Regions from separate parts of the Homo sapiens genome. Here all the other regions are reported to be linked to region 2. The links are microRNA targets in miRTarBase. Many come from high-throughput screens and were not tested one by one. Region 2 holds a microRNA gene; each other region holds the end of a gene's coding sequence.

Region 1 (6,337 bases), not on the chromosome of region 2:
AGCTGCTTTTCTAAAGGCTCACCCAGTGGTCAGTTGTGAAATTTAAAATGCTGTCATTTATTAGTGTAATTACATGATATTCGGGTACATAAACAGTTGATATGCTAACCTTGTATATTTCTGCACCTCCCAGTAGGTTTAAAGTTAAATAGGTTTAAGAGAGAATGTGGTCAAAATCAGTAATACTCTTTAAGAGGGGTAATCTGATTTTACAGTCGGCAGTACAATAATAAGGCTGTTGCCAGTAAAGTGGAACACTCCATAACACCATCTTTCAGAGAGTCTTCATTTCTGTAAGCATTTCCCCCAAGTATTTAGAAATGAGAATCAGTTTCAAAAGCTCATTCTCATAAAACCTACAACCAGATTCTAAAGAGAGTTCATGTTGAAATACCAAAATTTTATTAAGAATCATCATTTTAAATACCGCAGTCTTCTTAGTCTTCCATTTCTCATTAGCAAAAAATTTGGTATTTTAAATAAGTAGTTTTGGTTAATGTGCACATGCTTATTGTTGTGTACGTTGGTGGTATGGTTCACACTTAGAAATTACATATGTTGTGTTTCATAAAGTAACAGATGTTACAATAGTATTATTCCTTTCCTCAACGCATTTCGGCCCTAAGTAAGACACAATCACATACATTTCAAAATCGATTTTAAATTTCATTCATTGCCCCTGTTTTTGGTACAACCTAGTCACTAGTCTTGAATGCCATTTACCCTCAAGAAAAGAGAAATGAAGTGCACCATGAGGCGCTGGAACAGGTTCTCAAGGCCACATCGCCACGGCCAGAGCTGTGTGGAAAATGCAGAGTTTATGTTCATGACCTTCAGCTAACTTACTTCACTAGTAAGCTTCTCTGCGCCATTCCATGCTTGCTGTGACCCTGGAAAACCTGAATAACCAGTTAACTCTTGCTTGCAGTTGATAGTGAAGATGAATCACTTCGTTAGCTCCACTCTACACTTCTTTGAATCACCTCATGTTAAGTGTTTGATAACCAGGGTCTTCCTTTGTTAAGATCAGCCTTTAGCATTTATTCAGAGCTCTAACACCTCTAATGAGCCATGAGAGTTGGGCATCTTAGGGATGGGCTCTGGACTGCAAATAGTTATGAAGTAATAAATAAGGCAGTTTACATTTTAACAACTTTTTTTTTTTGCAATGACACTTGGAAAATTCAGTTAACATATCAGCAAACGTTTTGCAATGTGTTATTATTTTGTGGTATTAGAAGATGCTAGCTAACTTTCCCCCAAAGTCTTATTGCTGGTTAAAATCCCTTCTTTTGCTTCTCAGGGGGCAAATATGGCCAAACAGATTGGAGCAGCTACTTATATCGAATGCTCAGCTTTACAGTCGGAAAATAGCGTCAGAGACATTTTTCACGTTGCCACCTTGGCATGTGTAAATAAGACAAATAAAAACGTTAAGCGGAACAAATCACAGAGAGCCACAAAGCGGATTTCACACATGCCTAGCAGACCAGAACTCTCGGCAGTTGCTACGGACTTACGAAAGGACAAAGCGAAGAGCTGCACTGTGATGTGAATCTTTCATTATCTTTAATGAAGACAAAGGAATCTAGTGTAAAAAACAACAGCAAACAAAAAGGTGAAGTCTAAATGAAGTGCACAGCCAAAGTCATGTATACCAGAGGCTTAGGAGGCGTTTGAGAGGATACTCATCTTTTTGGAATCCTGACCTTAGGTTCGGCATGTAGACCAAGTGATGAGAAGTGAATACATGGAAGAGTTTTTAAGTGTGACTTGAAAAATATGCCAAAAAATGAGAGATACAAATGAGCTAGAGGAAGATGAGGGGGGATGCGAGTACCTCCAAGAAGAAAAATCACACTCTGAATGGTGCTTGCATTTTTGGGTTTTTTTTTTTTGTTATAATCTATTCATGGATCTCCACTTTGATTTAATTTTTAAATGTTTTAATCTCCTTTACAAAAAGTATACGTTAATATACCGTCCTCAAGGGGGAACTGGCACTGTGACCTTAGCATTTAGTTTTCTAGAGGATGTGATCTAATTTCTTTCTAGCTCATCATTAAAAAGGAAATTGTATCAGGACCCATGGGATATATCCAGAGGCAAACTTTATGAGGCTTTGAAATCTTGCCTTCCTGAAGATAGCTGAGTAGGATGGTTCTAAGGAAAGCCTTTGCAATCTTGCAAGATTTGTAGACCAGCACTACAAAGATCGCATAGATCAAATAGGAAAAAAAATGTCGATTTTTATTCAGTCTGATGGTTCTGTTCTTCATTGTGATTGTCATTAAAAAGTGGTAAATTGCTCAATGTAATATTTTTGTGCGCTGTTTAGAAGTTGTGTGATTTTTTGCCATCGTTGATAAAAATGCAAAGTCAAATAAAAGGTGTCTTGGTTTGATGTCATAGAATGATCCAAGGAGAGAAAAAAGGTAGTTACTGTTTTCACCAGAAAAGGTAATGAGTGAAGGAAAGAATAGTAGCAGAAAGCACAGTTTGTGAGTAAAGCTGTCTGGAATTAAGTTACCAAAAATACAAAGCAAAAGGACTATTATTTTGGGTTGAAGCTCCAAAACTGACAGCATCTGATAATCTGTTGGTTTATTTCACTTTTCATTAAATGAACATTGATGAGAGAAGATGCCACTTACCCAAGCTTTAGAGAATCCCTAGTGGAAGATTATATGATAAACTTTCAGTCCTGACATAACACTAGGGCATTTCTAGAGTGTCATTGCTAAAACCTCACTGAACAGATGCAGCCAAGGTCTGTGTTCAGCACTTGGTCTCTGTTGTTACGTAAAATAATAAGCATTTAAAATAGTTTACAGATATTTTTGACCAGTTCCTTTTAGAGATTCTTTCAGAGAAGAAACCAGATCTGACCTGTTTATTGTTGGCGCTTGTTGAAAACGAGCTTTCTTTCCCATGATAGTGCTTCGTTTTTGAAGTGTTGAAGCTGTGCTCCCCTTAAATCGTGGCAGGAGAGATTAAGGTAATTACAACACTCAGTTCTATGTCTTACAAGCACTTTGTCTTGTCTCTGCAAGAAAATTCGATTCCAGTCATTTCCCATAAAATACAGACATTTTACCAACATAATATGCTTTGATTGATGCAGCATTATGCTTTGGGCAGTATTACAAAATAGCTGGCGAGTGCTTTCTGTATTTAAATATTGTAAAAAGAAAATAAGTTATAACTGTTATAAAGCAGAACTTTTGTTGCATTTTTTAAACTGTTGAAGTCACTGTGTATGTTTGTTTGGTCAATGTTTCCGCAGTATTTATTAAAACATACTTTTTTTTTCTTCAAATAAAAAAGTAACCATGTCTTTGTCTAAATGTGATCTGTCTTTTATTATCTACTTCCTGATTTAGCTGTTTAGCTTTGTTCTTTAACATAGGTGATTACAGAATCTGGCCTAACGTTTTCTGAACTAGAAGGCTTTGGAATTTTTTGATTCTTCATAGTAGTAACAGATAAACCTGCATATATAAAAGTTTTCATGATGCTTTCAAATCACAAGAAAAAAATGGGGCATAATTAGATTAAGTGATTTGATCATATACAAAAAAGAGCTATGATACTGCCTAAGATTAACTTGTAGAAAAGATGGAAATCCTTCAAGTCTTTAAGAATGAAGCAATATGATGCAGTCTCAAGTCACAGGTTTAATACTAATATAAGCCTAGTTTGCCTCTCTGCCCTGTGGGGTCCTAAGCCTTGGTCCTTAACCCATGCCACCTCGCAAGGCATGCCCTTGTTCACAGCAGTTGTGGGGATGACCCAGAACACAGCTTTTGCAGCAATTCGTGGAAGGATAAATAACACAGCACAACATAATACAAGTTACCCCACTGATCTGGGAGATGTACAGTAAGCATGGAACAGCTTAAAAGAGAGGACTATCTCCCCATAAATCCAGTTGATTCTCAGTCTTCAGCTAAAATACTTACATATAAGTTTTACATAAGTGTCCAAAGATACTCTGTGGGATTTTAAAACAGTGCTTCTTTTTACACAGCTAAGTCACTTCATATAAAAAAATGCATCCTTGTGGCTTCTTTTTTTCTGAGTGGCTTTGGGAATCTTGGAGGTATAGTTATTTGCTTGGAAATAATTCTCAGAAGCCCAAAGCAAAGGGGGAAGCAGAGAATCCAGCATGAGTGAACAAATTAAAGCACACTGACATTATGAAATGGCCTTATAAACAATTTTAAGCACAGAGATTTACTGAAAATGTCTGTAACTCATTCTCGTCATCAAATAGTAAAGGAAATAAAAGTACTTTCCAAATCCTTCGTGTTGAGTAACTTCGGAGCATAATGTCTAAGTCAGGCTTGCAAGAAACTCATTTCTCAACAATCACTGGCACAGAAAAATAAAAAAATAAATAAAAAGCTGAGGTTTTGCTGACCTTGGCAGTATTTTATATGCTGTACAGTAATGTTCCTCTCTGGTCAATTGTTCTTTCCTAGCAGCTTTAATTTGTTGAAGCAAAAGAAAAACGTTTGTCTTCAGCCTTGGGCATGGATGCCTTCGTTTTCTCTGACTTCTTGCCTTAGCAAACATTTCTTCTAAGCATTCTGTGAACATTCCTTTCTATTGATTAATGATCATGGTTAATGCCTTTTTAAATACTAAAAGGTGGTTTTCAAACTCTGAGTAAGACTTACACTGTGTCTCTCTCATTTTAATCTTTTACAGGAATAGTTTCTTAGAAGATTCTAGTCTTGCAGGGAGTCTGTCTTGAGTACAAACTTAGAAATAACTCAGGGAGTTATTTTTATTAGAAAGAATTTTTTTAAATGACCTCATCTTCTAACTCTCCTGAAACTCTTAAAGCTGCTTATCCTTTTTCTACTGGGTTATTTTGACACCAGCATTCTGTTTTAACCTCAAAGTTTTTATTTTTATCATTTTTCTATTCACCAAATATTTATTGAGTGCCTACTACATGCCTGTCACTTTTCTGAGTTTGGCTCATAATCATGAATTAAATACAGTCTCTCACATGGGGAATTTATAATGTAGTAGTGGGAGACAGTCACTACCAAACTATAGTACACCAGAACTGGTTGTCATTTCCATTGACATAAACTGAATCAAAGAAAGTGAGTAGGCACTAAATATTCCAATACATAGCCAGGCACATTAATGCAATAGCCGCATATGTTACACCACATACGGAAGATGATCAATTGCTAGTGAGAGGACGCTCCCTTCGTTCTTTATGTCTCCCAGAGGCAGTTGGTAACTTATTTACAACTTTAGGTTCCTCTCAGCTCTGGGAACATAGTTCTTGCCTCTTACCACTTGTTCATATACTTGGCTACATAAATTCCCTTTCTGTTTTCTCCTTTCCTGAACATAATCTCCATGAATATGACTCTTTCTACAAAACTACAGCATATAAATAAATAGACTCAAGCAACATAAAGTATTGTGGTGGGCTGCATAATGACTCCCCAAGCATGTCCACCTCCTAATCCCAGAAACTGTGAATGTTTCCTTGTATAGCAAAAAGGACTTTGCAGTTGTGATCAAATTAAAGATCTTGTGATGGAAAGATTATTCTGGATTATCCAGAGAGGGCCCATGTAGTCACAGACCTTTATAACAATTATGTAGGAGGAATCAGAGTCAGACAGTGGCAATGTGATGACAGAGATGACAGAGGGTCAGGCAGAAGGATGGAGAGAGATTTGAAGATGCTATGCTGCTGGATTTTTTTTTTTTTGGCAGAGTCTCACTCTCTGTCACTCAGGCTGGAGTGCAGTAATATGATCATAGCTCACTGCAGCCTTGAACTCCTGAGCTCAAGTGACCCTCCTGCCTCAGCCTTCTGAACAGCTGAGACTACAGGTCTATGTTACCATACCTGGCTAATTTTTAATTTTTTTTTTTTTTTTTTTTGGTGGAGATGGAGTCTTGCTATGTTATCCAGGCTAGTCTCAAACTCCTGGTCTCCACCTCTCAAAGTGCTGGGATTACAGGTATGAGCCACCATGCCTGGCTTATGCTGCTGTCTTTGAAGACAGAAAAAGGGGGCCATGAGCCAAAGGATACAGTTGGCCTCTGGAAGCTGGAACGGTCAAGGAAAGGAATTCTCCCCCAGGGCCTCCAGAAGAGTTGCAGCCCTGTGGACCTACTTTAGATTTCTGACCTCAAGAACTGTAAGATTATTAATTTATATTGTTTTAATCCACTACATTTGTGATAATTTGTTACAGGAACAATAGGAAACTAATACAGGTACACTAACAAAACTATTTTCTTCCTTCACCCCTTGCTTTTGGCTTCTTTAGATGATGAGGCAATGGTTTTTACT
Region 2 (6,337 bases):
CAGGCTGCTCCTGTGGTGCCTGGGGCTGGAGCTGAGCGCTGGGTACCCCCCTTCCCGGGGAGGGCTTGACTGGCCTCTGATGGCACCCCCGTCTTTCCCCAGCGCCGGCATCGGCCGCACAGGCACCATCATTGTCATCGACATGCTCATGGAGAACATCTCCACCAAGGGTGAGGGGCACCTGGGGGTTTGGGGGTGGGGGGTGAGCAGCCCCTCGGTGTCCGCCTATGCCTGGACCTGAGGTTTGACTGCCCCCCACCCAGGCCTGGACTGTGACATTGACATCCAGAAGACCATCCAGATGGTGCGGGCGCAGCGCTCGGGCATGGTGCAGACGGAGGCGCAGTACAAGTTCATCTACGTGGCCATCGCCCAGTTCATTGAAACCACTAAGAAGAAGCTGGAGGTCCTGCAGGTGCGTGCAGAGCAGGGCCTGGGGGGGGGGGGGGCTGCAGTGCAGGATGGGTGCCACCTGGCCCTGCTGGGACCACCACCTTCCCACTGTCCCTCTGCCCACAGTCGCAGAAGGGCCAGGAGTCGGAGTACGGGAACATCACCTATCCCCCAGCCATGAAGAATGCCCATGCCAAGGCCTCCCGCACCTCGTCCAAGTGAGTGGCCCTGACTGCCACTGCCCGGCATCCACCCCTTTGTCCTGCCCAGCCCGATCCTCACTTTCTGGAGAGGACAAGTGTTGCAGCTGGGGGGACCTGGCTTCAAGTTCAGGCTTGGTTCTCACCCCTTCTGTTCATAAGCATTTCCTGAGTGCCCACACGTGTGGGCCTCTGCTAGGTACCAGCAGCGCACTCGTGTATGAGATGTAGCCTCTGTCCTCTAGGAGCTTGGAGTCTAGTGCAGGGACCGTGGCTGCGTCACCTGTGAGACGGGGTGGCCAGAGGGGACTGCCAGTGCCGGGTCCCCCTGTGCTGTCTCCTGACCTGCACCAACTGCCTGTACTTGCCCCCCTGCACCCGGCTGCAGACACAAGGAGGATGTGTATGAGAACCTGCACACTAAGAACAAGAGGGAGGAGAAAGTGAAGAAGCAGCGGTCAGCAGACAAGGAGAAGAGCAAGGGTTCCCTCAAGAGGAAGTGAGCGGTGCTGTCCTCAGGTGGCCATGGTACAGCTCTTCTGCCTGGGTGTCCTCCCTGCCCTGCCCTGTGTCCTTGGCTCCACTGCCTTCCCTGGGTGGATGGGGTGGCCGCAGCCTCATTCTGTGCTTCCCAGCTGCCCCAGACCCTCTTGTTCCACCTCCAGGTTCCAGCTACCCTCTCACTCCCTCACTCCCTTCTCTTGGCAGCCTCAGCCCTGACCCTGTGGAAGCATTTCGCGATGGACAGACTCACAACCTGAACCTAGGAGTGCCCCATTCTTTTGTAATTTAAATGGCTGCATCCCCCCCACCTCTCCCTGACCCTGTATATAGCCCAGCCAGGCCCCAGGCAGGGCCAACCCTTCTCCTCTTGTAAATAAAGCCCTGGGATCACTGTGTGTCGCCTCTGAGCCCTTTGCTTGCCCAGTGAGTGGGCGGCCAGAGGGCAGGGCAGGATGGGTAACTGTGTGTGCCTCCGTGCGTGCCTCGCGTGAAAGCTCCGCCTTCCGTCAGACGGACGTGGGTCGGGACTCCGCCTCGCACGTGGGAGGGTGACCGTGGGTGAAGCTCCCCAGTCTCCTTCTTTAAAATGGAGGGCGATCATAACAGGGTGGTTGTGAAAAGCACCGAGATGACGGCTGACGATAAGACGGGCACAGTGACTCATCACACGCTTGCCATGTGCCCAGGCACTAAAAGACTACACACGTTAGTTCAGTCTAGGCACTTCTGTCATTCTCATTTTACCGTGGCGGAAACTGAGGGACAGAAAAACTAAGTAACTTGGTCACTTGCCCAAGGTCACAGGGCTATGGAACAGTGAGGCTGGGATTCGAACCCAGGCTGTCTGACCCCAGAGCCCACACTCCTTACCCTGGAGTTGCAGCTGGGGCCACCCTCAGGGGGGCCCTGATCACACTCCCCTGATGCTGAGTTCCAGATCTGAACTAAGAAGAGTAGTTAACAGCCGGAAGCGCAGACCTGAGGCCAGCCCGGCTGCGTCCCCTCTGGCGGGAACAGGGACAGGCTCCTCAGAGCACCCGGGCACGCCCAGCTCCTCCCCTCATCCAGGCCGCTGCTGCCCTTATCCTCTTGGGCAGAGTTTGAAGAGCTGGCTGACGTGAAGAGTGCTTTGTTTTTTGTCCCCTCTTCCTTCCCCCATGTCAGGAGTGGGGTTTCTTCTTTATTTGAAACACTGGTGTCCTGGGGAGTAAAGCCGGTGGGAGTCATCCCTCAGGAAGTGCTGGCGCCCACTCCTGGAAAGGCTGAGACAGCACAGGTCCCAAAGCCCAGAGGCTGGGCGTGCATTACTCAGCAAATCCTTACAGAGCCCCCGGCGTCACAGGCATTCACAGTCCCCCGACCTCCTGGAACTTAGGAGGCTGGTCAGGGAGACAGATTCACAAACCGATCACAAGCATCAAATAATTGCAGGCGGGTATTAAGAAGGAAGCAAACAAAGCCTGGGAGAGAGAACAGCGAGGGATTGAGCAACCCAATAGCTCCCTGGGGCTGTGGCCCTCCAGGGCACGGGTGGGGCAATCACCTGTCGGGCCCAGGTCCCCTCTCCCAGCAACGCCCTTTCTATACAAGCCGCAGCTGCACAAAGGCAAGTCCCACCTCCTCTAACCGCCCTTGGGCTACCTGCCCTTGGGGTGGGACTTGGACTCCACTGAGGGCTGTGCTGTGAGGTGGGTCCGGGAGCAGCTCGGTCCGGAGAGTGGAGCGCGATCGTTCCCTCTGCAGGCCTCAATCGAGGGGCAAGGCTGATGCTCCGGGCCAGCTGGGGTCTCTGGGTAGCGGTGGGTAACTTCACACTAGCGACACCTTGCTGGGACCCGCCTGCCCTTCACAGGCCTGGCGGGGCCTTCTCCCTCCCCTTTCCCTCAGGGGATCCCAGCACAGGCTGGGCACTGCGGGGCGGCACAGCCCAACTCCTGCCCAGCTGACCCCTCGCTGACCTCAGGGATCTCTCTGGCCTGCAGCTCCGCTGTGGGCAGGGTCTGAGGCCACAGAGGAATGGGCTAGTCCTGGGGGCAGCATCTGCTGTGGGGAGGGGACCCAAGGACAGCCCCCGCTTTTTGTACCTCTGGAGACAGGGGTGAGACTAGGCAGGTTGGAGAAAAGAGGCCCCTGGGAGAGGGTGGGAGGCCTAGAGGAGTGGCCAAGCCTTAGAGGAGGTGCCCGTGGCTGGCGCTGGGAGGGAAGGGGTTAAGGCAGTGGGGGGGCAGCCTATGGCAGGAGGACACACCTGTGCGCAGGGTGGCAGGCGGGGCCCAGGTAAGGAGCCTGCGCTGGCTGCCCGGCAGGCGGAGAAGGAAGGAGGAAGAGCGGAGGCCAGGGCGGGCTCTAGGCCGTGGAATCTGGGGCCTTAAAGCCCCTTCGTCTCCCCAGCACCCACTCTCTGGGGGCAGGTGGGCCCGGTGACAGGTAAAGGCCACCAGGGGAGAGGTCCTGGGCTGAGCTTGGGACTGCAGAGGGGGGATGAGGGTGGGTAAATCGGTGTGTGTCGCGGGTCGGGAAAGGCTGCCGGGGGTAGGGGAAGGTGGCTCAGAGGCGGCGGGCCGACGGTCGAGGGGCTTCGGAGGGCCTGCTTGGACTGCAACCTGGGCCTCGTGATCAGCGACCCAGGGTGTGGCTGGTGGCGGGCAGCAGGGCTCACCAGGAAGTGTCCCCAGGGACTCGGGTGGTGGGGGGATGGGAGCCAGGGATCTGCAGCTTTTCCGCAGGGATCCTGGGCCTGAAGCTGCCTGACCCAAGGTGGGCGGGCTGGGCGGGGGCCCTCGTCTTACCCAGCAGTGTTTGGGTGCGGTTGGGAGTCTCTAATACTGCCGGGTAATGATGGAGGCCCCTGTCCCTGTGTCAGCAACATCCATCGCCTCAGGTCCCCAGCCCTTAGCTGGCTGCAGCCCCCTCCCCACTTCCCACGCACCCCGGAAGCCCCTCGTCTTGAGCTGAGAGCGTTGCACAAGGGGTGGTTCTTGTTGGCTGGCTGCCACTAAGGGACACAATGGGCCCCAGCCCCTCCTCCCACCCAGTGCGATTTGTCACCTGGTGGATCCAGAACCCACAGTCGACCTTGAGCTTGGGGTTGGCTCGCCCCCTCTCAAGAGACCTCACCTGGCCTGTGGCCAGGGTCCCCTGTAGCAACTGGTGAGCGCGCACCGTAGTTCTCTGTCGGCCGGCCCTGGGTCCATCTTCCAGTACAGTGTTGGATGGTCTAATTGTGAAGCTCCTAACACTGTCTGGTAAAGATGGCTCCCGGGTGGGTTCTCTCGGCAGTAACCTTCAGGGAGCCCTGAAGACCATGGAGGACTACTGACCAACAACCTCTGACCTTCACCCCTCTGGATGGGGGACGAATCACTAGGCAAAGGGGAACAATGGGAAGGAGACAAAATGGCTGCCTTTACAGCTGCAGCAAGATGTGGAAACACTGGTTCCCTAGGCACCTCCATTGTCTTCCCGCCTTGGGAGCATGAAATAAATAAAGTGTGAAGGGGAACATGAGGAAGACTGATCCAAGTCACTTGACCTGTCTTTTGTCTAGTTGTTTATCTCATCTTAGCCTCCCAGCAACTCAGGATTGGGGCTGCGACGTCTGCTTTGTCTTTCATGATACTCAACCCCAAGCAGAGAAAAATATCTTAAAAATCGAAGCAGATTAACCCAGTCCCTCTGTTCAGATCCACCTGCTGCCCTATCTGCATTTGGCAGTTCCTGGACATACTTTGCACCTATGTTTTGTCTGAGTTCCACATCTTCCTTGTCTCCCCGCAGGGATGGGAAATGGGCAGTAGTGGGAGATTCAGGTATAAACGGTGGCTCTGTTTCTCTGGTGCCTGAGATTCGGGAAGGCCTGTCTTGGGAAGATAAGTGTCAGCTTATCTGTGGACTGAACAGACAGGCACCTGTTCTGTTGGCCCCGGAACTGCGGGCATGAAAAGCCCACCTCCCCAGGGGAGGCCTGTTAGCTAGCAGCTCCTCACGCCTGGTGACTGAGAAATGGAGTCTGGGGGGCCTACAGCAGGCCACGCGATCCACTGGGCTTCTGGGCACAGAAGTGCCTCAACAGGCACAGGCAGGCTCCCCACAGCCACAAGGAACCCTGCTGCCAAGGAAGCAGCTCCTGTTGGGGTCATCAGATTTTTAATCTGGCTCAGCAAAGCCATGGCTGTCCAGCCTTAAAAAAATGGGTGATGTGGGAGAAATGGAGGGTGTGTGAAGAGCACAGCTGGGCCTCGAGAACTCAGGGCCAGCCTTCCCAGCTTGGGTCCTGTTTCGGAGCCCAGGCCTTGCTTCCCCTTAGCCGCCCCAGCCAGATTCTTTTGCGCCCCCTGCTGGCACACACAAAGACAGACCCAGGAGCGCACATGTGAACGTGCGCATGCTTGCTGCCAGTTACCCAGTTCATGAACACGTGAAGCCTTGACTTCAGGTTAAGTAATAAAAATTTATTGAGAATTCCTGGGTTGGTGTTTATCTCCTCCCAGCCTTGAGGGAGGGAACAACACTGTAGGAAATCACTGAGAAATCACGCACTGTCCCCAACAGCCCCAGTTAACACAGGGAGGAGGAAAGTAATTCCCCAGAAAAGGGGCTAGTCTTCAGTCTTCCTTAATCCAAGAGGGGTTCAGGGAACCGGTGTGGGGGACCATCGCATGATACTGGGGCGGGGTAGGGCTGTGCTGGACCCCTGGCTGGCTCCTCAAAAACTGGAGAAGCAGATCCACTTCCTCTGGGGGTGGAGTTCTTGGTGACTAGGCTCATTTCTTACCCTTGATGAGGCTGTCACTGTAGGAAAAAAAAGATAGATAATGACATTATTAGGGGACATAAATGTGAGAGGCAGGACACTCTAGGCCATTCCCTCTACGACCCTCCTACCCTGATTGAGGGTTTGTCTTCGGGGAGGTGGGAAAGGGGGTAGGGTAGGAGGCGGGTACTGGAGAAGGTGGCCTGCAGGACCCCACAGAAGCAACAACAGCTTACCTTCCCCTGTGGTGCCAGATCGCCAGATGAACAAGAAACAGAGAAGAGAAATGCACATGTTAATTGACAGCTTCAGGCCCCACTCAGCTTTGAACCCTCCTTTGCTCCCAAGAGAAAAGATAAACAGGGTTGACAGCCAGGAATCTCAGGCTCATGAAAGGAGGAGGCATGTTCTCATGGCCACTGCTATTTCTCATCTCCTTTCCTAACATCCCTCCATTCACCAGAGGAGTTTGAGGGCTCTTGAGTAA
Region 3 (6,306 bases), not on the chromosome of region 2:
CAACTATGCATATTTTGATACCCCAGCTGTTTCTGCAGCAGATCTCAGCTATGTGTCTGACCAAAATGGAGGTGTCCCAGATCCAAATCCTCCTCCACCTCAGACCCACCGAAGATTAAGAAGGTCTCATTCGGGACCAGCTGGCTCCTTTAACAAGCCAGCCATAAGGATATCCAACTGTTGTATACACAGAGCTTCTCCTAACTCCGATGAAGACAAACCTGAGGTTCCCCCCAGAGTTCCCATACCTCCTAGACCAGTAAAGCCAGATTATAGAAGATGGTCAGCAGAAGTTACTTCGAGCACCTATAGTGATGAAGACAGGCCTCCCAAAGTACCGCCAAGAGAACCTTTGTCACCGAGTAACTCGCGCACACCGAGTCCCAAAAGCCTTCCGTCTTACCTCAATGGGGTCATGCCCCCGACACAGAGCTTTGCCCCTGATCCCAAGTATGTCAGCAGCAAAGCACTGCAAAGACAGAACAGCGAAGGATCTGCCAGTAAGGTTCCTTGCATTCTGCCCATTATTGAAAATGGGAAGAAGGTTAGTTCAACACATTATTACCTACTACCTGAACGACCACCATACCTGGACAAATATGAAAAATTTTTTAGGGAAGCAGAAGAAACAAATGGAGGCGCCCAAATCCAGCCATTACCTGCTGACTGCGGTATATCTTCAGCCACAGAAAAGCCAGACTCAAAAACAAAAATGGATCTGGGTGGCCACGTGAAGCGTAAACATTTATCCTATGTGGTTTCTCCTTAGACCTTGGGGTCATGGTTCAGCAGAGGTTACATAGGAGCAAATGGTTCTCAATTTTCCAGTTTGATTGAAGTGCAGAGAAAAATCCCTTAGATTGCAAAATAAAATAGTTGAACTCTCTGTCTTCATGTGGAAGGTTTAGAGCAGTTGTGAGATGCTGTTATGCTGAGAAACCCTGACTTTGTTAGTGTTGGAAAAAAGTCTTACAAGTCTATAATTTAAAGATGTGATGGTGGGGAGGGGAGGATGGGGAAGCTTTTTATATATGCATACATTACATACCTATATATAAACTTGTGGTATAACCATAGACCATAGCTGCAGGTTAACCAATTAGTTACTATCGTAGAGTAATATATATTCAGAATAATAAACTCAAGCTGGAGAAATGAGTCCTGATAGACTGAAAATTGAGCAAATGGAAGAAGATACAGTATTGTTTAGATCAGAATCATTAAAAAATATTTTTGTTTAGTAAGTTTGAAGATTTCTGGCTTTTAGGCCTTTTCTATTTTGTTCCATTTATTTTTGCAGGCAATCTTTTCCATGGAGGGCAGGGTATCCATTCTTTACCATGGGTGTACCTGCTTAGGTTAAAAATCATACCAAGGCCTCATACTTCCAGGTTTCATGTTGCGTCTTGTTGAGGGAGGGAGAGCAGGTTACTTGGCAACCATATTGTCACCTGTACCTGTCACACATCTTGAAAAATAAAACGATAATAGAACTAGTGACTAATTTTCCCTTACAGTTCCTGCTTGGTCCCACCCACTGAAGTAGCTCATCGTAGTGCGGGCCGTATTAGAGGCAGTGGGGTACGTTAGACTCAGATGGAAAAGTATTCTAGGTGCCAGTGTTAGGATGTCAGTTTTACAAAATAATGAAGCAATTAGCTATGTGATTGAGAGTTATTGTTTGGGGATGTGTGTTGTGGTTTTGCTTTTTTTTTTTAGACTGTATTAATAAACATACAACACAAGCTGGCCTTGTGTTGCTGGTTCCTATTCAGTATTTCCTGGGGATTGTTTGCTTTTTAAGTAAAACACTTCTGACCCATAGCTCAGTATGTCTGAATTCCAGAGGTCACATCAGCATCTTTCTGCTTTGAAAACTCTCACAGCTGTGGCTGCTTCACTTAGATGCAGTGAGACACATAGTTGGTGTTCCGATTTTCACATCCTTCCATGTATTTATCTTGAAGAGATAAGCACAGAAGAGAAGGTGCTCACTAACAGAGGTACATTACTGCAATGTTCTCTTAACAGTTAAACAAGCTGTTTACAGTTTAAACTGCTGAATATTATTTGAGCTATTTAAAGCTTATTATATTTTAGTATGAACTAAATGAAGGTTAAAACATGCTTAAGAAAAATGCACTGATTTCTGCATTATGTGTACAGTATTGGACAAAGGATTTTATTCATTTTGTTGCATTATTTTGAATATTGTCTTTTCATTTTAATAAAGTTATAATACTTATTTATGATACCATTAGTAATGTTTCTTGCCTAAAGTCTTATAAAGTGTATGAAGCAATTTGACAGCATTATTTTTAAGCACAAGCGAAGATTCTTTGAAGTTTAATGTATTCTTGAAACTCTTATTCTTTAGAATGAAACATAATTTGTGCAATCTTTTTCACATATTATGAAAGTATACAGTGGAAATGAGCTGTTTGTTTTTACCTTTAACAACTGAAAGAGAACTGGATTCTGGGGTTACTATCAGAAACAACGTTGGGGGTGGGAGTCCACATCAAGGAGAACGTGACAGAAGAAACCAGTTCTGATGTGTAGACTTGGTTTGACTCATTCTGATTTTTAGGACGAGGTCCCGGTTACTCTGGGCCCTTTGGCAGGCTTTGCTTCTTGCTTAAGGCCACCCAAGGAATCTGCACCTGCCTTGGCCTGTCATGGAGATGGCAAGTCCACAGTGGACAAATGGGCTCCTGGCAGCCTTTGGATGGAGGCAGGGGCTGGAGTGCTCTTTGTGAGGGGGCTTAGTCCCATGTCACCTAGCCCTGTGCCTGGTTCTCTTCACTGTCCTCTGCAGGCTCCTTTGTCCCCTGGGAGAGGGTGGGAGCCCTCCACGACCTTCATCGGGCACCTGCACTGTCTTGCCACTCTCCAGAGTGAAGAGTGAGGGCTCAAATTATCTGGGTTGAAGTTGCAACTTCATCCCTTTCTAATTCTGTGTGAGGCAGATTATTTTAAATCCCTGTAGCTCAGTTTTCTCATTGGTAAAATGGGCAGAGAGGTGGGAATTATTTTGTGACAACTGCATATAAACTATATTATCTGGTACATAGTGAGGGCCCCATACATGAGAACTGTTTTTGTCATCTAAAGGCTGGGTGTCATTTATGGCATTTTACAGATGAAGATGCAGGCTTGGGACGTTCAGTCAACAGACATTTGTTAAATCCCAGCCCCATGCTGGATCCTGCGAAAACACATCCCCTTCCCTTATGGAATTTAAAGCAGATAATGTTAATTATGATTACATCTTATATTAAGTGCTAAATAAAAAGGTAATGAACAATGGGAGCAATGAGGACTGATAATGGGACCTGTGAGGTGTTAAGCTCTGAAGGGTTAGAATGGAAGCTGAGGGAGGGGAGTGAACAGGTAGGCATGTTACCAGTGGAGGAAGCAGACAATGTGTGAGACCCTGAAGTAGGAAACAGCTGAGCAGCTTCCAGAAAGTGGCTGTCAGGAGGAGGAGGGGCCTGGAAAAGTGTAGTGGGTGCCACTGAAAGATCCTAAGCAGGAGAGGAAGGTGATGTGATTTAAGAGGACAGTGGCTGTTGTGTGGAGGACAGATCGGAGAGAAGCAAAAGGAAACGGGAAGACTTAATGGACAGAGGCTACTGTAGTCCTGAACTGAGACAAGACTGCCTTGGCCAGTGGAGATGGAGAAAAACAGTAAAAGATACCTGGGAGTAGTAGAAACAGTTAAGTTCCAGATCACGCAGGCCCGTGTGCGCGGCACCCTGGCCAAAGAGGGACAGCTCCCCAAGCGCAGGGACTCAGCTTCCTGTGCACTGTCATGACGCACTGCCTGACCCAGGGGTGCAGTAAGTCCCTGCTGACTGGATGTCTGAATGCAGCACTTGCAGAACTTTGTCTGCTTCTGAGACTTTTTGCCTCTCCCCTCCCCTCCACTACCTTTTCTTGGTCATATGGTCAAGAATATGTTTCATTAGTTCTGTTTGCTTTCCATCTTACCTTTGTATTTTTACTTGTGTTTGCAAGCATATACCTTTTCCCTGATTTTTCCTGGCTAAGCAAATGTGCCTAGCCGCCATGCCAATGCCACACTACCACCGGAACACATCCCCTAGCACCTTCTGCCTGTCAACTTATTCCTCAACCAGCACACAAAGCAAGTTAATTCTAAAGAGTTCTCGTGGCATAGGTCAAGCCCGGGACTTCTGACACTCTTCTCTGTTGCTAAGTAAGATGCCAATAGGAAATCAGCTGCGTGTTAGCTGCCACTTTATGCACTGTTGAGTTCTCAAAGATGGTTATGTCACACAACAAAGTACTGGCCTAAAACCCAGGTTCCTGTCTTGACTTCTCCCTTTTTTTTTTTAGACACAGAGTCTTCTTGCTCTTGTCACCCCAGGCTCCAGGCTAGAGTGCAGTAGCACCAATCTTGGCTCACCGCAACCTCCGTCTCCCGGGTTCAAGCGATTCTCCCTGCCTCAGCCTCTCAAGTAGCTGGGATTATAGGCAGGCGCCACCACGCCTGGCTAATTTTGCATTTTTTTAGTAGAGATAGGGTTTCTCCATGTTGGTCAGGCTGGTCTTGAACTCCCAATCTCAGGTGATCCGCCTGCCTCGGCCTCCCAAGGTGCTGGGATTACAGGTGTGAGCCACCACGCCTGGCTGACCTCCCACTTTCTATAGGAAGGATTCACTTCACTTCCCTGAGCTTTAAGTTCCTTGTCAGTATATGTGAGGCCATGCCAGAGCGCACTGTAGTGCTATGCACACCTAAGGGACTGGTTAGTAGATACCATTTCGTGGCAGCAAACAGAAGCCGAGGATAAGGGGGCTCTCTTACAAGTGAATTCAAAATTTGGGTTAATAGTAAATGTCAGTTTTTTGTTTTTTTGTTTTGAGGCAAAGTCTTCGTCACCCAGGCTGGAGTGCAGTGGCACCATCTGGGCTCACTGCAACCTCTGCCTCCAGGGTTCTAGCGATTCTCCTGCCTCAGCCTTCCGATCAACTGGGATTACAGGCACCTGCCACCACGCCCGGCTAATTTTTGTATTTTTAGTACAGACGGGGTTTCACCATGTTGGCCAGGCTGGTCTCGAACTCCTAACCTTAGGTGATCCACCCACCTCAGCCTCCCAGAGTGCTGGGATTATAGGCGTGGGCCACTGCGCCCAGCCAATTTTGTCAGTTCTTATGCTGCAACAGTCAAGTATGTGATGTGTATCCTCTTGTTTTTAATAAATTCCAAAAACACACTAATGGAAGTTTAATACTGTTTGTTGCTTATCCATCTCTAGGTCTCAAGAGATGTCTTAACTATGCTGTGAAAAGTAAGAACTCTCTTTAAGAGGATGTTTCTTGGCTGGGTGCGGTGGCTCACGCCTGTAATCCCAGCACTTTGGTAGGCCAGGGCGGGTGGATCACCTAAGGTCAGGAGTTCAAGACCAGCCTGACCAACATGGTGAAACCCCATCTCTACTAAATACAAAAAAATTAGCTGGGCGTGGTGGCTCATGCCTGTAATCCCAGCCACTTGGGAGGCTGAGGCAGGAGAATCACTAAAACCCGGGAGGCGGAGATTTGCAGTGAGCTGAGATTAAGCCACTGCACTCCAGCCTGGACAACAACAGTGAAACTCCGTCTCAAAAAAAAAGAGGATGCTTCTTCACTATTAGGGACCCTAAAAAATAAAATAAAAGGCCATAGAGTTTCATCTTCCAGAGCAATTCACAGTTGACTAGAGAAAAGCCATATTCATATATCTACTGGTTCAAGAATCAACATGTATTTTAAGCTAGTCTCTATTTTGGTTCTTAATTTCATCACATAATTAATAGTTTTAGGATATACTGGAGCTTTTCTCTTAAAAATAAGTAAAGCTCCTAGCACAGTTTTGTATTTCTTATATAGTTTTTTTTTAACTTTTCATCTTGATGTAATTATACACTCAAAAGAAGTTGCAAAATAGATCCCCTATGCCCATTACCCAGATTCCCCCAGTGATGACATAGAATTTATCAAAATCAGGAAACTGACATTGGCACAATACTCATGTAGGATTTTATCTGGAAGTAGTTACTATCAAAATGAACTTAGGTGCTACTTTTTCAAATTAATTTAGAAATTAATTTTGGCCTTCTGGCATTTTGTAAAAAGCTAATAAAACTCTAAAAATATGTTGTCAGGCTGGGCATGGTGGCTCACGCCTGTAATCCCAGCACTTTGGGAGGCCGAGGCGGGCGGATCACCTGAGGTTGGGAGCTTGAGACCAGCCTGGCCAATGTGGAGAAACCCCATCTCTACTAAAAATACAAA
Region 4 (6,113 bases), not on the chromosome of region 2:
ACTGGTTCGGCTTCCACCCACAGGCGCCCCTCTGCCACCCTCATTGCCTGGGAGCTGCTCCGCACTCAGGGCCTGGCTGGGCTCTACAGGGGCCTGGGTGCCACTCTCCTCAGGTGAGCCTTTCTTCCGGTTCCCTAGGACAAGTGCACGGGGGAGGGCACGAGGGCCAGAGAGCTGGTTGTCCCTATCTGCCTCTGTGTCCTTCCCAGAATATCCAAACCCAGGTGAGCAAACGATTTCCATGCTTCCTGTTTTGTCTGGAACTGGCCAGGGTGGCACAGAATGGGTACCTAGAAGACTAAAGTTTTAGGCCGCTTGCATAGTGATGACCAGGCCCACAGGAAGGCTGGGTGTTTTGTGGCCCAAAGGCACCTAAGAAAGCCCTGTCTACAGAGGACCGCAGAGTTCATAGTAATGAGTGGCCAGGCCCCTCATCTTCCCTTAGCCTGCCTGCCCCTGTACAGAACGCATTTCCCGCCTCGGACTTGCCTCTGGCAGTCAAGAGGCTGCAGGTGCTGCAGGGCAGAGGAAGGAGCTGGGACGGCGGAACAGATGGCAACAGCTCTTTTGTCCCCTGCTGTCCCTCACCCACGCTCACGGGGCACAAAAGAAGGGATGAGTCCCCGTGGCTCCTCTCACTGTAAGCCCCACAGCTCACAGCAAAGCTCATTGTCTCACCTTGGGTGGCAGCCCCAGGGCAGCTCGGAGCTCAGTGTTTCTCCTTCCTCTTCTGCAGAGACATTCCTTTCTCCATCATCTACTTCCCACTGTTTGCCAACCTTAACAACCTGGGGTTCAACGAGCTCGCCGGTAAGGCGTCCTTTGCACATTCCTTCGTGTCAGGCTGTGTGGCAGGTTCCATAGCTGCGGTCGCAGTGACGCCTCTAGATGGTAAGGAGTTGGGAGACGTGTCCTTTCTATGGGATAAACAGTAATTTTGCACTTATAGATAAAACAGCCTGACCCTGGAAGCCATACTGGGTTGCAATCTGGCTGCTGGCGGAGGCTCACTAGAGGCCCTCATGGAGAAAGTGGGTCCCAAGAGACCTTCCTTCTGTTTCTCATCCCTGACACATCCCTCGCCTTCAAGATGCTGATTGCTTTAGCTTTTCATCCCCTCAGAAGAGTTGTGAGCCCCAGCTATAAATTATTGCTGATGTGTTAAAATTTGGGGCTGGCTGGGTGTGGTGGCTCACGCTTGCAATCCCAGCACTTTGGGAGCCCAGCACTTTTGGATCACCTGAGGTCAGGAGTTTCAGACCATCCTGGCCAACATGGTGAAACCCCGTCTCTACTAAAAATGCAAAAAAAATTAGCAGAGTGTGGTGGCGGATGCCTGTAGTCCCAGCTACTTGGGAGGCTGAGGTAGGAGAATCATTTGAACCCAGGAGGTGGAGGTTGCAGTGAGCCAAGACCACACCACTGCACTCCAGCCTGGGCGACAGCACAAGACTTCATCTCAAAAAGTAAATAAATACATAAAATTTGCGGCTAATGGTGGGAGCTAAACCTGGCATGAGAAGACAATGCTTCCCTCCGTGTTAGGGCTGCCTCCAGCTCCCTAAACTTGCGGGTAGACTTCCTATACCAACAGTAACCTGGCCAGGTGCGGCGGCTCACGCCTGTAATCCCGAAACTTTGGGAGACCGAGACAGGAGCCCAGGAATTTGAGACCAGCCTGGGCAACAAAGTGAGACCCTGTCTCTAAAAAAAAAAAATGAAAACATTAGCTGGGTGTGGTGGTGCGTGCCTGTAGTCCCAGCTACTCGGGAGGCTGAGGTGGCAAGATCACTTGAGCCCAGATGGTTGAGGCTGCAGTGAGCTGATTGTGCCACTGCACTCCAGCCTGGGCAACAGAGCGAGACCCTGTCTCAACAAAACCAAACAAAGCCACAGTAACATGACTCATTTATTTTATAGCTGAGGCCCAAAGAAGAAGACCTCCACTTACAGATCACACAATGGCAGAACTGGCCTCATGACCGTTTTTTTTTTTCTTTTTTTGTTTTTGAGATGGAGTCTTGCTCTGTTGCCCAGGCTGGAGTGCAGTGGTACAATCTCGGCTCACTGCAAGCTCCACCTCCCTGGTTCAAGCGATTCTCCTGCCCCAGCCTCATGAGTAGCTGGGACTACAGGAACGCGCCACGCCCGGCTCATTTTTGTATTTTTAGTAGAGATGGGGTTTCACTATGTTGGCCAGGCTGGTCTCAAACTCCTGACCTTGTGATCTGCCCACCTCAGCCTCCCAAAGTGCTGGGATTACAGGCGTGAGCCACTGCGCCCGGCCTATGAGTCAGTTTTATATGTGGTGGCTCTACAGGAGGGCCCAGCCCCTTAGTGTTGAGGGGAGGACACCGAAAGTAAGCTGTTCACTACTTACTTTAACTTTTACTTGATTTAGTTCTGAAAACTCGAATCCAAACCCTCAAGAAAGGCCTGGGCGAGGACATGTACAGTGGGATCACCGACTGTGCCAGGTGAGAGCCAGTGTCCCCTCAAATGGTGGCTGGGACAGGTTCCTCTGCGTGGGTGTCTGCCTAGACCAGATTTAGAGACCAACTTGAATTGCTGGGCTCTGGGTTTCTTTGAAGTCTGTCTTTCCCTCACCTCTCAAAGAAAACAGAATGTACTGGGAGCCTTTTTCTTCTTCCTGGCATCCCTACAGCATCTCTCACCAAAGATTCTAGCCACATCAAGCCTGTTTCCAAGGCCTTGACCCAACTGCATAAGTAACCAACCTGCATGCACCTAGCGGGCGAGGCACAGCTCCCACACCGTTGGCCTCTTGCTCTTGTTGTGGAAGGCACTATTCTAAAATGAGAGGTGCACAAATGGAGAGGCTGCCACTGAGGGCTGCTTGCAGAATGCCCCTGCCCATCAGCTCACTGGCTCTTCTTTCTCCCCAGGAAACTCTGGATTCAGGAGGGACCATCTGCCTTCATGAAAGGCGCTGGCTGCCGGGCACTGGTCATAGCACCTCTCTTTGGGATTGCTCAAGGGGTCTATTTTATTGGGATTGGAGAGCGCATCTTAAAGTGTTTTGACTAGACAGAGCTGGAGGTCAAGTCCCTGCGCTTGCCGCCCTCTCTCTAGCTGTTTCACTTAGCCTAGAGGGGGCAAGGGCAGGTGGGGCCACTCTGGCCTGCCTGGTCCTCTGCGTTGTAGTGCTACCTCAATCTCGGGAGAAACAGCCCTATATTCTAACAAGTTGAGCACAGCCTTCTTCCCCTTCGTGTCTACACTCGTTTTCCTTTGTGGGCACAGCTACCAGGGGCTTTTGGAAGCCCCTAACCACCTACTTTTCAACAAAAATGGTACTTTCGTTGTATTAATTGCAGGACCTTAACAGGTAGTCACAATAGAAGGGTTGTTTCTGTATTTTAACATTTCTATTTCACAGTCAAACTCGGCATTCTTCAGTCAGCTTGAGGATTTAGCATTGTTAATCTTGGACTCCATAACTTATGAGTCCTAGCACTGATTTTGAGGAAAAGGAGGATCAGAAGTTCAAGGGACCGTGAAAGCCCTCAGAGTCAGCACCTAGTTTGAGACCAAGCACCCTTTCGAATCCCTGGATGGCTGAGGGGGCTGAGGCCGGCTCTGACTGGGCAGCTCAGCCCCTCCCCCAGAGCCCAGGGTCTTGCACACCCCTCCCTGTAACCAAGGAACACTCTGAAATAAAGGTGAATGGCTAAAATCTCATCTGTTCATCAGTGGGTACAGCAGATAGGCTGCAGTGAATGCTATCACCATCTACTTTTCTACGTCCATTTCAAAACCAAACATTAAAAAGGGCATAGAAGCAGACCCCCGTCACTCTTCAAACTGTTACTTGTGGGGGTGGAGGAACACAGCCATAGGGAAATATCTGCTTGTTAGTGACACTGGGTTTTAAGCCTTGATTCTATCCCTTCATAAGTGAATCGTCTTGAGGAGCTGAGTTTGCTGTGAGAGCCCTCCTCACGCACCTCGATTCCTCCCCCAAAGGCTGCTACAGGAGAGATAATGTCACAGCAGCAGGGCCAAGTCCTAAGAAAATCAGCACCTGCTGCAGGAGCTGGTGTTTACAATAGTCCCATCTACTGTGAAACCTGGGCTAACAAGGAAGAGGATGGTGCTAACATGGTCAGCCCTGGGGGCCTCACTCTCTGTTATGAGAACTGCATTTGAGTATGGGCCCTGGAGACAGACCTCAGTTCAAGTCCCAGCTCCACCATGTACTAGCTGCAAGGCCCTGGGCAGCTCTTAGTCGTCACCTACGGAAAAATAAAACATGGGACAGGGAAGGAAGAACAGGGCCTCTGTGAAAGGATCTGGTTCCAGCACACAGTGACCTGCTCCAAAATAACTCGGTTTTTTGGGTCTGGCGCCGTGGCTTACGCCTGTAATCCCAGCACTTTGGGAGGCCGAGGCAGGCGGATCCGAGGTCAGGAGATCGAGACCATCCTGGCTAACACGGTGAAACCCCGTCTCTACCAAAAAATACAAAAAATTAGCCAGGCGTGGTGGCGGGCGCCTGTAGTCCCGGCTACTCCGGAAGCTGAGGCAGGAGAATGGCACGAACCCGGGAGGCGGAGCTTGCAGTGAGCCGAGATGGCACCACTGCACCCCAGCCTGGGCAACAGAGCGAGACTCCGTCTCAAAAAAAAAAGAAAAAGAAAAAACAAACAACTTGGTTTTTCTCATTCGGGCAACACTAATAAAACTATTTCCTCAATAAAGTTGTGCACGTCACGCTGAAGAGCCATGTGGGGTGTGTGGAAGATTGCAAGGGTGGAAAGAATGCTCCTGGTGATGGGCTGGGAACAACGGGCAACAGCCCAGGGGACCCCCAGAGGGTTAACGGGTCCAGGTGCTGACAGCTGTCACCATCAAGTGCCACGGGGATTGGGAAAATACTTCTTTTCTAGGTGCCTCAGTAAGAATTTGACTCTGTCAAAACCTAAATTTGTAGTGCCTTACACTAGAAATCACATTAAATCCGCATAACTCTTTTAATAAATAAAGCATATTCATGGCTTAGATTTTAAATCACATTTACAGATGAGGGAAAACTTCTAGGCCTAAACAGGTAACAGTAAAGCGACTACTGCTGGAAGGAGTGGTGTGCCACATGCGCCTTAAGCCTCAAGAGTGGGGACTGCAGGGCCAAACACCAAATACATCACCTTTAGGCCAGACGGAGAGTGGAGACCCAGGAAGCCCATGCAACCACCATCTGCCCCCTCCCCTAGTGCTGCAGAACCGGCTGGACACTGTCACACTTTCAGAAGAACTGGAGGTGGGTCCTGATCATATTACATGAAGCTTTCCACCATTGTGAACAATTAGGCAAGGCATGAGTGACAGAGGGGCATCGCTGATAAATACAGAGCAATACTGGGGCAGTGAAGAGGAAGCTACAGAGACATTCGTGTTTCTTCAAATATCAGAAGCTTCCACATCACAGCAGGAGAGCTGACGACGAGCTCCACCTCCTGAAGGCTTAGTCCAAAAACTTCCTGTTGGCATTTGCACCAAACAAGGCTCCCCGGACTTCTGGCATCATCTGTGGAGAGAAAGTGTAATAAATACGCAATGTCAGCTGAAGAAGTTGTAGAGCGCTGCACATCTTTTTTTTTTTTTTTTTTTTGAGACGGAGTCTCGCTCTGTCGCCCAGGCTGGAGTGCAGTGGCGCATCTCCGCTCATTGCAAGCTCACGCCATTCTCCTGCCTCAGCCTCCCAAGTAGATGGGACTACAGGTGCTTGCCACCATGCCTGGCTAATTTTTTTGTATTTTTAGTAGAGACGGGGTTTCACCATGTTAGCCGGGATGGTCTCGATCTCCTGACCTCGTGATCCACCCGCCTCGGCCTCCCACAGTGCTGGGATTACAGGCGTGAGCCACCAAGCCTGGCCAGAGTGCTGCACATCTTAACCACAGGTGGAAAGCCATGAACCTCTATGTGGCTGGGAAGGACTCACAAAGCCACGCACATCAAAGCCACCCTCTCCTTCCCTGAAGCAAGTAACACATTCCTTGGTGAGAAACTTAACTCATCCCAAATCTGGGGTTCAGACTGCTTACAAAAGGGACACATTAAAAAAAAACAAAACAAAAAAAAACCTAAAG
Region 5 (5,978 bases), not on the chromosome of region 2:
CATCTAAAATTTTTAAACATTTTGTGCCTTTAAAATTTTTTTTCATAATTAAATATATGTGGGAAAATTTTCACTTACTAGACTGTTTTTTTTTTTTTTTTTCCCCAGCACTTACTATATACCAGTCATAGGGACACAGAGATGAGCTGGAGTGGAAGTGAGGAGGGATGAGGAAGGTGAAACAGCAAACACAAAACAAGGCTTTTGACTGTATATGTAAAAAGTACTGTGGGAGTTCAGGTTAGCGATTGCCTGTCAGGAGTTAGGAAAAACTTCATGAAGGAACTAACATTTAAGAGTGGTTATCAAGATGAATAGGAGTCTGAAGGGGAAAGGAGGAAAACACATCTGCAGAAAGAGTACAGCTGATGTTCCAACTTTAGGGAACAGTGAGAATTTAGATGACACTGAGCATGGAGTGTGTGGCCTATGGCGCAGGGTCAGAAGGCAGTAGGACCAGAATGATAGATAAGGGCCAGATCATGAAGGGCTTTGCTGTGCCACGCCAGGGATTTTGGATTCTATCCTAGGGTGATAAAAAGCCAGTTAGACAATGATATAATCAGTTCACAAAACCGGTTACGAAGATGTTACAAATGAACAGCAAGAAAAAGAAGGCCTGAGCTAAGGGAGTAGTAAACAGATTTAGTAGTTTTTGAGCTACAGGTGTCATGGTATAGTGATGAATTCAGTGGACTAAAGGGATATAATACTAATAAGAGAGAAAAGTAGGATCAAGTGTTACTATAAGGTGTCTTCTGCTTTGAGATTGTGTAAATGATAATGTCATTAGCTGAGAATGAGAATATAGGAGGAGGTGATTTTTTTTTTTTCATAAGGTAGAAATGACAGTGGAAAGGACTCATTCTACACTAAAGTAGCTTCAGGAAAGAAATTTTTTCCCAAACAATGTATCCTGACTTGAAGTGCCCAAAACATGTTCTATATCAATATATAGGCCATAGATGGTGACCATATTGAACATACTAATGTGAATAGGTTTGCTACAACTTGATAAGAATATTATACCTATAAACTGCAAATAGTAGCTGTAATGTCAATATGATAGAATTTTTATTTTTTAAAAAAATTTGAAAAAATACAGGGGTGAGAGATCTTTACTGATTCTTGGTACTTTTTTTGCCTTCAACTGATTTCCTATCATGAGAAATAATTTAGTTTGTCATCACTGTAGTATATAATACTTTTTTTGTCCTCCAAAATCACTTTGTAAGCCAAGCTATATATATATATATATTATAAAACAACCTTTCACAGATGTTAGAAATGCATGGATGGATTCTTTGCTTATAATTGGAAACACATGTCCCATTACAGGCCAAAAGATAATTTAAATAACTTGCTGAGTGAGCATGGTACAAACACATGAATCAGAACTATTATTGCTGGACATCTTGGCTCTTCTATCTCTTGGGTTGTGGGTCCTTGAGCCCATTACACCTCTAGGCTACCAAAAAGTTAGGCAGTTTATTGATTTTCATGAATATATGGATTTTATTTGTGAATGCCAGTGAGCTCCTATTGGTATAAGATCTCTTGCATTCTGAAGCGTTAATATACTTATTTTTACCTCCCTGTTTCTTTATCTTGAATGTACATTTTTGGGAATTATTTTCCCTTTATAACATTTAAATTAGGTTGGGCACAGTGGCTCACACCTGTAATCCCAGCATTTTGGGAGCCCAAGATAGGAGGATAGATTGAGCCCAGGAGGTCAAGGCTGCAGTGAGCCAAGATCATGTTGCTGCATTCCAGCCTAAAAGAGCAAGACCCCATCTGAAACACACACACACACACACACACACACACACACACACACACACTCTCTCTCTGTCTCAAACTAGTACTAAATAAACTAAATTTGTAGTTTTTCCAGTCAGTTTCTAAGCCAACAAATTTATATATTTTGTTGTTCTTTCTTTTTTGGGGGTTTTTAAAGAGTTGCATGATTTTGAAACAGTGTTCTGGTTTTTAAAAAATCTGCTTGATACTTGTAGAAACAAATTGGAGAAACATGGTGGAAACTTCAGATGGACTGGAAGCATCAGAAAATGAGAAAGAGGTATCCTGTAAGCACAGCACTTCTGAAAAACCCAGTAAACTTCCATTTGACACACCCCCAATTGGTAAGCAGCCATCATTAGTGGCTACAGGCAGTACTACCTCAGCTACAAGTGCTGGGAAATCCACAGCAAGTGATAAAGAGGAAGTGAAGCCAGATGACCTGGAATGGGCCTCACAGCAGAGTACAGAGACTGGCTCTTTGGATGGCAGTTGCCGAGATCTTTTGAATTCCTCCATCACCAGCACCACCAGCACTCTTGTACCTGGCATGCTTGAAGAAGAAGAAGATGAAGATGAGGAGGAGGAGGAAGATTATACTCATGAACCCATATCTGTAGAAGTGCAGCTCAATAGTAGAATTGAGTCTTGGGTCTCAGAGACCCAGAGAACTATGGAAACCCTTCAGCTTGGAAAAACCCTTAATGGTTCTGAGGAAGACAATGTAGAGCAAAGTGGAGAAGAGGAAGCAGAGGCGCCTGAGGTGCTGGAGCCAGGGATGGACAGTGAGGCATGGACTGCTGACCAGCAGGCCAGTCCTGGGCAGCAGAAGTCCAGCAACTGCAGCTCGCTCAACAAAGAGCACTCTGATTCTAATTACACAACGCAAACTACGTAACTCAGGAAATGTCGGCTCTCTATCTCCAGCTGTGGAAGGGTTGCAGCCATTACCTTTTATGCTTCATCTCAACATTTTGCACTGTCCAGTATTTAATATACGTATTTAATTCCCAACAAATATTTTTGTAGCTTTTACTTGTTATGATCTGTAGCTTAGCTTTTAATTAGTATCTAAGTGTCTTTCTAAGAACTGTGTGGAAAATTCAGATCTGTTTCAGCTTATTTTGTAATCAAAAACAGTGATAAAAAGAAGACCAGATCTTAAAGAAAATAAATTTCAAATGCTTACTTAAAAGACATTTTGAAAGTTAAAGAACAAGGTTCTAAGGATAGAAGCAGTTATCAGTGTTTGCTTCAGGACTCCACCTCCTCTACTCTAATTTGACCAAAAAATTGTTTGGGCTTCTTTAAAAAAGAACTGGGGGTGGAGTCAGAAAATTAAATGAAAGGCTGAGGGTAACTAAGTCCACCAGTGTTGTATGTTAAAAAATCAATGCAACTTTTATGTGGTCCACAAATGTTTAGTCAGAAGTCACTGATTATTGTAATTAATTAGTGTTGGGATGGGCTAAAACAGAGCCTTCAAAACTTCGGCTAGCAGTGGAGCCACCATCTTAGATTATAGCTAGCTAGCCTCATTTGTGGAAAGTGATAGATGCTGTCTATAATAGTGAACAGTCACCCATGATAGGACCTCCAGGTTCTGTCTCATATTTGCTTCTTACTTACCTCAGGAATGCTCTTGTACATAGACTTATTTACAAAAAGCTAGGCACATGTTGACAGGTGAATAACTGTAACCGATTGTATGACTGCTGCACTTACATGTAAACTCTTCAGAAACAGAGTCTTATACTGGTGTGTTCTCTTGCATGCTTCTGGTTCAGGACTCTTGATTTGAGATATGGATTTGATTGAGTATCCAAACTTGTCCTGAGTGCAAAACTGTTTCACCTTTTAAAAAATACCTATTTTGCACCTAGCCTTGAGCACCTTCCACATAGCAATGACCATAGTTACTGTCAGGAGGTCAAGGAAAGGAACTTTGCACAACTTGTGACATGTATCCTGATAATCAAGGCTTAGAGGAGGAAGTTTTAGAAGATAAGAGAAAGTTGTTCTAATTGTGCTGAAACTATTAGATGATTTAGAGTATACAGATATGTAGGTATTAATTCTCTATTCACTATTATTTATCTCTGCCCTTCTCTAGGAGTTTGTATACCTGCTTAGGAGACAATAAATGAGCTAAATGTTTTATTTGCTAGTCAGTCACCACCTGGACTTCAGTGACTTTACAAGTTTATGTAATGGTGGAAGAATGACAAACTATGTAATTTTTTTGTCTTCCATCCAACTCCCCACCACCCCCAACTGTCCCCCCCACCCCCCTCACACACATGCACACATCCGTACGTGTGTGTGTTTTCCACTTACAAGCTTCCATAAGCAGGCACAAAACTGAGAAGGAAGGGGTATTATCCCTGCCCTGATTATCTGGGGCAGGGCTTTGCCTCACAGAGGCAGGAGAGAAGAATTGGGCAGATTCTTTACTGAACTCATTGGGACTACTGTGCTAGTTTTGATGTTTTATAATGCTGGCATTTAATTACTGGAGAGATTGGATTCTTGGTTGATGATTTAGTATTTGTGAATTGTGAAAGTTCAGGAGCTGTGTAGAAAATGTTAGTCAATCAACTTTATTATTGTGCTAAAAGGGGACATTCTTATACTGTCCTGTCTAAACTGTTCTCCAGTATAGACTTCCTAGGCACTAAATATCCAATATTTAAAGGAACACAGCAGGTAAGGAATGAAGCCTCTGAAATAGTACTCATGGATTTATACATGGCAGATCTTACTGTCTCTACACATTTGGAAGTGTTCGTTGGTTTAAAGAAATGATAGAGGTTTTGAACTACTGACAGTCTTAAAAGTGAATTTAAAAACTGTTCATACTTTTTATGGTGTAAATTTCCTTTGCTCGATGTCAGTGATTCAGATAACTCTTGACCTTGAGATGATGGCTTTTCACAGGTTTCTTATATTTTATATCTCTTCTGAACATGAATTGTCATTTTAGATTTTTGACATTTGTATCAAAAGAGAAGTTGAGGAAATCTTCAGAACACTGGTAACTTTTAGTTTTGCTATAGACTTCAGAAGTGTTTATTTATATGTTCGGTAAATGCTCTCGCATATGCAGTACCTCTTCTGCCAGCAAATCCAAGGGACCATAGCCTTTTTATGAGACAGGTCACCTCTAGAGGACAACCCAAGAATTATTAAAGGAAATGTTACCATTTTGAGAGCATGCTTAAATAAATATTAATAATGTCTTTATAACTTGTTTCCTTTAAATTTTGGAATATTGAATTACAGGCTTTGGAGGAGTTGTGAAAATTAGGAAAGTTTTTATATATTTTTTGAAGTGGGCATGGTTGGCTCTTTGAAGACCTATAAAGAGATCCAGTGGGAAGAGTAAGGGTTGGTTCATCATCACAAGAAATAAAAAACATAGTGATTTTTTCTCTTAATGTGTAGAGGTGGTTTTACTGGCAATAATTAATAATAGATTTCTATTTCAGTATGTAAGCATATTAACTAAAATATGAATTACACTTCCAAAGTTAGATTTCTGCTTCAGTAGGTTTGTTTGCTGTGAAGATTACTTCTCAAAAGACAGATGTTCATATTAGCTTAATTTTCGGTTTAAATATGTTTGTAAATGATGTAATATATTTCTTTTGACTAAATGTGGAAAAGTAATGTGTGTTATACATTGAGAAGTTTTTACTGGCTTTGACTGGAGGTTGTTTTTGCAGAGATGGTATTTTATATGATTCCAGTATTTGGAAAAGAATTAGTCAAAAGGAATTCACATAGTTTAAATACTGAGAAATTAATATCCAAATATGTACTTGTCTGATTTCTAAATAAGCTGGGGGAGGAGGGAGGGGTGGGAATTGAAATGTGCAAATGAGTAGTGAATGCTACACTCATTTTCAACTCTTTAACATGAAACTGTTCAATCTTAACACATTGTTACTTTAATATATGTATAAAGAAGTATTACTGTTTGTAAAGCTGCTGTTTGCTTAAAAAAAAAAAACACCCTTGTCATGTATTTTCTGTATGTTGGGCCAACAGGTTAGAACATCAACTCATTTAAAAATTTTTATCTTTTTTTGATTTAAAAAAATTCTGTGAAATAATTTATTTACAGACATCTTCCTCCTCCCTCATCCCTTCCAACCTTTACATACATCACAGAA

The links. Region 2 holds the annotated microRNA hsa-miR-200c-3p (UAAUACUGCCGGGUAAUGAUGGA, at 3,918-3,940, shown strand). A microRNA usually pairs through its seed, bases 2 to 8, with sites in the 3' UTR of a target mRNA and lowers its output. Matches are read on the target gene's strand: a 7mer-m8 pairs with bases 2 to 8, a 7mer-A1 pairs with bases 2 to 7 and ends in A, and an 8mer does both.
Region 1: the mRNA of RND3 is a reported target of hsa-miR-200c-3p. Seed matches in the 3' UTR shown: 8mer at 3,139-3,146 and 7mer-m8 at 3,284-3,290.
Region 3: the mRNA of ERRFI1 is a reported target of hsa-miR-200c-3p. Seed matches in the 3' UTR shown: 7mer-m8 at 1,198-1,204, 7mer-m8 at 1,773-1,779 and 7mer-m8 at 2,164-2,170.
Region 4: the mRNA of ATP6V1E1 is a reported target of hsa-miR-200c-3p. Seed matches in the 3' UTR shown: 7mer-m8 at 5,376-5,382.
Region 5: the mRNA of SECISBP2L is a reported target of hsa-miR-200c-3p. Seed matches in the 3' UTR shown: 7mer-m8 at 2,788-2,794, 7mer-m8 at 5,550-5,556 and 7mer-A1 at 5,772-5,778.

Annotation. Positions count from the first base shown.
Region 1 is chr2:150,465,205-150,471,541 of GRCh38, reverse strand. RND3 (Rho family GTPase 3) reads left to right here. Exons shown (of 6, transcript NM_005168.5): 6 at 1,304-3,347. The coding sequence ends at 1,555. Among named protein-coding and RNA genes, the nearest start is that of RND3, 19 kb to the left of the region's middle.
Region 2 is chr12:6,959,825-6,966,161 of GRCh38, forward strand. MIR200C (microRNA 200c) reads left to right here and starts at 3,875; the gene lies at 3,875-3,942. PHB2 (prohibitin 2) reads right to left here. Exons shown (of 10, transcript NM_001144831.2): 9 at 6,087-6,092; 10 at 5,503-5,888. The coding sequence ends at 5,861. It overlaps MIR200CHG (MIR200C and MIR141 host gene), which reads left to right and starts at 3,421. Exons shown (of 2, transcript NR_135032.1): 1 at 3,421-3,524; 2 at 4,377-4,623. MIR141 (microRNA 141) reads left to right here and starts at 4,273; the gene lies at 4,273-4,367. It also overlaps LOC105369634 and PTPN6. RefSeq lists enhancers at 1,734-2,533, 1,756-2,274, 2,083-2,292, 2,534-3,335, 5,118-5,167 and 2 more.
Region 3 is chr1:8,007,673-8,013,978 of GRCh38, reverse strand. ERRFI1 (ERBB receptor feedback inhibitor 1) reads left to right here. Exons shown (of 4, transcript NM_018948.4): 4 at 1-2,252. The coding sequence ends at 769. Among named protein-coding and RNA genes, the nearest start is that of ERRFI1, 15 kb to the left of the region's middle. RefSeq lists a silencer at 4,056-4,350.
Region 4 is chr22:17,587,189-17,593,301 of GRCh38, forward strand. It overlaps ATP6V1E1 (ATPase H+ transporting V1 subunit E1), which reads right to left. Exons shown (of 9, transcript NM_001696.4): 9 at 4,948-5,548. The coding sequence ends at 5,486. SLC25A18 (solute carrier family 25 member 18) reads left to right here. Exons shown (of 11, transcript NM_031481.3): 8 at 1-113; 9 at 737-891; 10 at 2,402-2,477; 11 at 2,907-3,807. The coding sequence ends at 3,048. LOC101929372 (a long non-coding RNA gene) reads right to left here and starts at 2,004. Exons shown (of 4, transcript NR_171783.1): 1 at 679-2,004.
Region 5 is chr15:48,988,967-48,994,944 of GRCh38, reverse strand. It overlaps SECISBP2L (SECIS binding protein 2 like), which reads left to right. Exons shown (of 18, transcript NM_001193489.2): 18 at 2,019-5,978. The coding sequence ends at 2,701. Among named protein-coding and RNA genes, the nearest start is that of SHC4, 28 kb to the right of the region's middle.